Homo sapiens: one gene and its partner. The protein of the gene in region 1 purifies or fractionates together with the protein of each later gene. This does not show direct contact. Each region holds a gene or a part of one and is shown in the gene's direction. Other genes may lie near its edges.

Region 1 (3,550 bases):
CTACTAAAAATACAAAAATTAGCTGGATGTAGTGGTGTGCACCTGTAATCCCAGCTCCTTGGGAAGCTGAGGCAGGAGAATTGCTTGAACCTGGGAGACGGAGGTTGCAGTGAACCAAGATCGCACCACTGCACTCCAGCCTGGGCGACAGAGTAAGACTCCATCTCAAAAAAAAAAACAAGTTATTTTTATGGTTTGTTTGAATCAGGATTGAAACAAGGTACACACATTATATGACTGATATGTCTTTTAAATCTTCTACTCTATAAATTTCACCTCCACACCTTTTTTTTACCTTTGTTCTTCTTCTTCTTCTTTTTTTTTTTTTTGAAGAGATGGCATTGTGCTATGTTGCCCTGGCTGGTCTTGAACTCCTGGTCTCAATCAATCCTCCTGCTTTGGCCTCTCAAAGTGCTGGGTATTGAAGGCATGAGGCACTGTGCCTGGCCCTCTTTCTTATTTTTTGCCTTATAATTTATATTTTGTAAAAAACAGGTCCTTTATCCTGTAGCAGTTCCCAGAGTCTCAATTTTACTGACTACATTTGTGGTGTTGTTTAACACTTTGCCCCCTTCATTTCCATTAATTTGGTGTTGGATAATTTCCACAATAACTGCACCAGTTGCTCAGTCTATAACACTAATCAAGCACTGAATCCAACACCAAATTAATTTCCAGTATGTTACTTTCTAATTGTTACATACATTGTCATTCTAAGTTAAGTGGCCTGTGAAATCAGTGTTAAAGAATAATAACTGGCTTTTTATAATAATGGAATAGAATACAATAGAAAGTATCAGTGCACCCTATGTAATAAGAATAATTATTATTTTGTGAAACGTTTTTCCACCATGGATATGTGTATTGGGAACTGGGTTAGTATGTGGAATATGGTTCTTAGGGGTTATGGTCAAATATTTGAAGAACACTGTAATATGTAGGAATTTTTTTTAAATTTAAAAACAACATATGTTCTTTTTGAAGAATTATATAAAAAAAATAGAACCACTAGAAATAGGACTATCCTAAGCATATTAGTTTCTTGTGGCTACCATAGCAAATTGCCATAAACTGATGATGTAAAACAACACATTTATTCTGTCAGTTCTGGAGACCAGAAGTCTGAAATCAAGGAATTGGGGCCACAAGCCCTCCAAAAGCTCTAAGGGAGAGTCCATTCCTTGCCTTTTCCAGCTTGCAGTGGCTGCTGGCATTTCTTGGCATTCTTGGCCTGTTCCTTGATGTGACTCCAATCTCTGCCTCCATTCTCATGTCACTCACTCCTCTGGCTTCTCCTTTTCTGCGTGTTGCAGATCTCTTTCTGCTTTTCTCTCTGTTTTGTTGTTTGATACAGACTTTAACTCTGTCGCCCAGGCTGGAGTGCAGTGGCGCAATCTTGGCTCACTGCAACCTCCGCCTCCCAGGTTCAAGCAATTCTCCTGCCTCAGCCTCCCAAGTAGCTAGAACTACAGGCGCCTGCCACCACGCCCGGCTAATTTTTGTATTTTTAGTAGAGACAGGGTTTCACTATGTTGGCCAGGCTTGTCTTGAACTTCTGACCTCGTGATCCACCCACCTCAGCCTCCCAAAGTGCTGGGATTACAGGCGTGAGACACCACGCCAGGCCTCTGCCTTTATCTTAGAAACGACACTTGTCATTGGATTTAGGGCCCGCCTAGATAACCCAGGGAGATCTTCTTATCTTAGGATCCTTAATTCTATCTGCAAAGACATTTTTGCTAAATAATGTTCACAGAGTCTGGCGATTAGGACATAGACTTCTCTTTTGGGGGCACCACCTTTCAACCCACTACACTAAGTGAAAAGTGAAATATTGATCTCTACATCCCCCAACACTCCACCCAGGCTAGCATCCCAAATAGGGAAGCATTAAGATGTGAAAAATTCTGCGGAACATTAGTGTAAAGCTTCTAGTGGAAAAATGATGACCAAGCATAACATTATGAGATAAGAGCATGAGTAGGTTTAATATCCCCCTGGTATACGGCAGTGCAAGTATTGCCCTGTCTTCTCTGCTTGGTGAGGCCTACTTTTCCCCAGAATTAGAGTAAAATTATTCAGTATCCTTATATTGTCCTTACTTACTCCTGCAGGTTCATGAATACTTAGGGGCAGAATGTAGGGAGGACATGCCATTCATTTCTTTGTGGTTTTTAGGTCAACTTCATAATATAAGAGAGGGATAATAAGTTAGCTTGTCATGCTACATGCTTGAAAGTCTGTCATCAGTACAGCCACCTATCCAGGCCAGACGGTTTCCCTGCCAGTTGGCCTCCATGGGACATTCTCCAGGAAACCAGCACATGAGCAGGGAAAATCCCTGCCATTGTTGAGGCTATCGTTGTGGGTGAAAAGGGAATGTCCCTTGTGGTCCTGGAATCTCCCTGTGGCAAGCTCTGAATAGGGTATGATGAATTGAATAGGCCAGGAAGGATCCTGGCTCAGGGCTAGAGTGGGATAGAAGGCCATTATGAAGTGAGAAATTAGAAAACTGGTGTCAGGATGGGGATCGCTATTTTACACACTTGAGAATTTAGAAAGGAATTACTGCACATTCCTAAACTGATTTTTTTTTTTTTTTTTTGACTGAGGCTCGCTCTGTCACCCAGGCTGAAGTGCAGTGGCATGATCTTGGATCACTGCAACCTCCACTTCCGGGGTTCAAGCGATTCTTCTGCCTCAGCCTCCCAAGTAGCTGGGATTACAGGCGCCTGCGCCTGGCTAATTTTTGTATTTTTAACAGAGTCAGGGTTTCGCCATGTTAGCCAGGCTGGTCTGAAACTCCTGACCTCAGGTGATCCACCTGCCTTAGCCTCCCAAAGTGCTGAGATTACACGCATGAGCCACCATGCCCAGCCAAACCAAATTTTACTAATTGATAAATCAAAGGACTGTTGTTGGTCATGTGATAAGAATAGCTAGAGCTGGGCGTGATGTCTCACACCTGTAATTCCAGCACTTTGGGAGGCCAAGATGGGAGGATCACTTGAAGCCAGGAGTTCGAGACCAGCTTAGTCAACATAGCAAGACCCCATCTCTAAAAAAAAAAAAAATAATAAGTAAAATAAAAAGAATAGCTGGGGACTAATGAGTGTGGACAGTTTGTAAAAATAAATTGAAATATTGTTAGTCTTCTTTATATTCCTAGAAATCGATGCTCCACATGCATCCCACAACTCCTTACAACTCCCCGATACAAAAATACTCACTGTAAGAAAAAAACCCATAAAACCAAACTAAACCAGACAATAGAAATCCCAATAATCTCATTACACAAAGAAAAGCCCCTATAAGCATTTTGTGTAATCCTCTAATAGTACATTTCTGTTTTCATCTAAAGTACTTTCATTTGAGGCTGGGCTCAGTGGCTCACACTTGTATCTCACCACTTTGGGAGGCTGAGGCAGGAGAATCTTAAGGCCAGGAGTTTGAGAACAGCCTGGGCAACATAGTGAGATCCTATCTCTACAAAAAGTAAAAAATTAGCTGGGTGTGATGGTGTGTGCCTGTGGCCTGGCTGTTTAGGAGG
Region 2 (3,657 bases), on another chromosome or scaffold:
TTGTTTTCTATTATGGGAGAAGTTGCAGTTAGAGAACCTCTAATAGCAGTACTTTCAGCCCAACAAATGAGACTAAAATGATGTGGCCCATATACATGGAGTAGCCATTTCCTATCTGCAGGGAATATGTTCCATGACCCCCAGTAGATGCCTGAAATCACAGATAGTACCAAACCCTATATCTACTATGTTTTTTCCTATATATACACATACCTATGATAAAGTTTGACTTATAAATTAAGCATAGTAAGAAATTAACAATAATAATAAAATAGAACAATTACAACAGTATACTGTTATGTGAATAAAAGTTATGTGAATGTCAACATTCTGTCTGTCTCTCTCAAAATATCTTGTACTGCACTATAACTGAAACTGTGGAAAGGGAAACCAGAGATAAGCGGGGACTGCTGTATGTTTTACAAAGTACTATCAAGTTTCACTACTTTAAAATACATCAAGTGGGATGTAATATGAAAATATTTTAGAATATGCTGAAAATTGATCACTCCTCAAAAGAATCATGATGAGCTTATTAGAATCTGTTTTGTGATTTGTAATACTAGGAGGCCTTACATCGGGAACAAATGTTGGAACAGAAGTTAGCCACGCTTCAGCGGCTACTAGCCATCACCCAAGAGGCTTCAGATACCAGTTGGCAGGTATTCCAGTTGTTTTATATTTAAGAAACATTTAAACATAGTTTAATATTCCATACATGTTAAATAAACTAAAATGTAGCAAACAAAGACAAAGTTATTTCCTAACTAATGAACAAGTTGTTGAAGATTTAGCATTTTACAGTGGATGCTGGTCAGTTTTACGCTTTTATATCTTTTGTTGTCAGTAGCAACCTTTTTTTATATACATGTGACTTTATAATTACTCGGGTTTTACTTACATTTAATTTTTCTTCAATAGGCTTTAATAGATGAAGATAGACTCTTATCACGGTTAGAAGTTATGGGAAACCAATTACAGGCATGCTCCAAAGTAGGTATTAACCTCAAATGTGTAAAATGAAATGCATAGTTTTTTATGTAACATCATTTCTTTGACTATCATTTTGAGTATATGCTAAAAACTTCATACATTTCCACAATTCTTTTAAATCTTTTGTGCTGAGAAACGTCAGACATCCATGTAAATAAAAATAATTACATAATGAATACCCATGTACAAGTCTGTCTTTTTTCTATTGCAGTTAATATTTCTTGAAAAAACTGGGTCATTTGTCCTCTAGAATTTCCCTCAGTCTGCATTGTTATTTAAACATTTTTTAGCTCCCCCTCCCACTCCATAAAGTAGTAGTTCCATCTAGAGATTTGATGTGATTTAGGTTCAGTTTTTCTTTTTGTCAACAACACTTTATGGATGGTATTGTGTTCTTCCACCAAGGGACAACATAATGTCTAGTTGTCTTTCTTTTTGAGATTTTTATCAATCATTGATGATCCCAGGCTAGATCCATTATTTCATTACGGTTACAAATAAGGCTGGGCGCAGTGGCTCACACCTATAATCCCAGCACTTTGGGAGGATGAGGCGGGCGAATCACCTGAGCTCGAGAGTTCAAGACCAGTCCAACCGACATGGAGAAATCCCATCACTACTAAAAATACAAAATTAGCCGGGCATGGTGGCACATGCCTGTAATCCCAGCTACTCAGAAGGCTGAGACAGGAGAATCCCTTGAACCCAGGAGGCAGAGGTTGCAGTGAGCCAAGATCGTGCCATTGCAATGTAGCCTGGGCAACAAGAGTGAAACTCTGTCTCAACAACAACAACAACAACAAAAAAGTTACAAAAATAATGATGTAATTCTGTTATTCCTTCACTTATTTAGCTGGGTTACTTCTATAAAGAGAAGTTTCCTTCCATACACAGTGGCTCATGCCTGTAATCCTAGCACTTTGGGAGGCCAAGGCAGGCGGATTGCTTGAGGTCAGGAGTTCAAAACCAGCGTGGCCAACATGGCGAAACCCCGTCTCTACTAAAAGTACAAAAATTAGCTGGACATGGTGGCATGTACCTGTAATCCAAGCTACTCAAGAGGCTGAGACAGAATTGCTTAAACCCGGTGGGGGTGGAGGTTGCAGTGAGCCAAGATCGCACCTCTGAACTCCAGCCTGGGCGACAGAGCGAGACTGTCTCAAAAAAAAAAAAAAAAAAAGCGGGGGCAGTTTGAGACCAGTATGGGCAACATGGCAAAACCCAGTATCTACCAAAAATTAAAGATTTGCTTAGCATAGTGGTACATAACCTGTAGTCCTAGCTACTCGGGAGGCTTAGGTGGAAGGATCGCTTGAGCCCAGGAGTTTGTGATTACAGTGAGTTATGATCGCAGAACTGCGCTCCAGCCTTGGTGACAAAGAGAGACCCTGTCTCTAAAAAAACGAAAAAAGGAAAAACAATGGCCATTGTTTTTTGTAACTTTGGCATCAAAAACCAAATACCACATGTTCTCATTTATAAGTGGAAGCTAAGCTATAGGTATGTAAAGGCATAAAGAGTGCTATAATGGACATTGGAGACTCAGAAGTTGGGAAAGTGAGAGGGGAGTGAGGGATGAAAAACTCCCTATTGAATACAATATACACTACTCAGGTAATGAGTGCACTAAAACCCCAGACATCACCACTACATAATTCATCCATGTAACCAAAAACCACTTGTATCTCTAAAGGTATTGGAATAAAAAAATTTAAATAACCCTGAGGTATGTTTTCTACGGGGAAAGCAAGATAAGTGATTTTCTCCCCTTATTTATTAGATTTCAGAATAATGAATTGGTGGTTTTTCATCTACCAAAGACTGGCCATGAAGTGTTTTCTCACTCCACTTAGATTTAAACATATTTGATGTATTTAAATCTGGTGCAGTTGTTTTTCTTGTTTTAGAGACAGGGTCTTGCTATGTTGCCCAGGCTGGTCTTGAACTCCTGGGCTCACGCAATCCTCCCATCTCGGCCTCCCAAAGTGCCACGGCCAGCCTATTTTTCTTATTGATGCTCAAATTATCCCATCTTTGGTCTGTGTAAATGTCTTCAGAGTGATAGCTTCATGCTGTCATTTCAGACAAGATGTTTCAGGCTCATTTTGTACTTTTCCTGCCCCAGACATGAAGTCTGCTTTTCCCCCATGGTACTCTTATTCCTTTTGTTTTAACCATTGTTTCAGAATGCTTGGTGCCTTTGAAGGTAATTGATTATTTTTGCCTACAAATGTGAATATGGTGGCTTGCAGAAAATATGACAAATATAAAAGTAACTAATTTTGTATATTTTAGGGAAATTCTCAATTGCCTATAACTTTTTTTTTCTATAGGAAGTGGAAATTAGTAAGTTTGTGAAGGCATAATTTACTTATGCAACTTGTAAATACATCTTTAGTTAATACAGGGCCAGAATCATTTATGTTTGGAGGTACCTTAATATATAATTTAAAGTATATCATAATGTGTTAATTTTTTTCAAACAATAAATGCTTTTAAAAAATAACTTGTCTATAATTATAAATATCTTTTATTGTAGAATCAAACAGAAGATAGTTTACGAAAGGAACTTATAGCATTACAAGAGGATAAACATAACTATGAGACAACAGCCAAAGAGTCCCTGAGGCGGGTTCTTCAGGAGAAAATTGAAGTGGTTAGAAA

Evidence for each region. Proteins that work in one complex are often made in the same cells at the same time.
Region 2: the proteins of F2RL1 (region 1) and SLMAP purify together in Homo sapiens (affinity purification with mass spectrometry; 3 studies listed by BioGRID and IntAct, with this or other methods). This does not show direct contact.

Annotation. Positions count from the first base shown.
Region 1 is NC_000005.10:76,828,949-76,832,498, forward strand, and holds part of F2RL1 (proteinase-activated receptor 2 preproprotein), read left to right. Parts: intron 1-3,550. UniProt on the Homo sapiens protein: Receptor for trypsin and trypsin-like enzymes coupled to G proteins.
Region 2 is NC_000003.12:57,857,167-57,860,823, forward strand, and holds part of SLMAP (sarcolemmal membrane-associated protein), read left to right. Parts: intron 1-566; coding exon 567-662; intron 663-921; coding exon 922-993; intron 994-3,532; coding exon 3,533-3,657. UniProt on the Homo sapiens protein: Associates with the striatin-interacting phosphatase and kinase (STRIPAK) core complex, forming the extended (SIKE1:SLMAP)STRIPAK complex.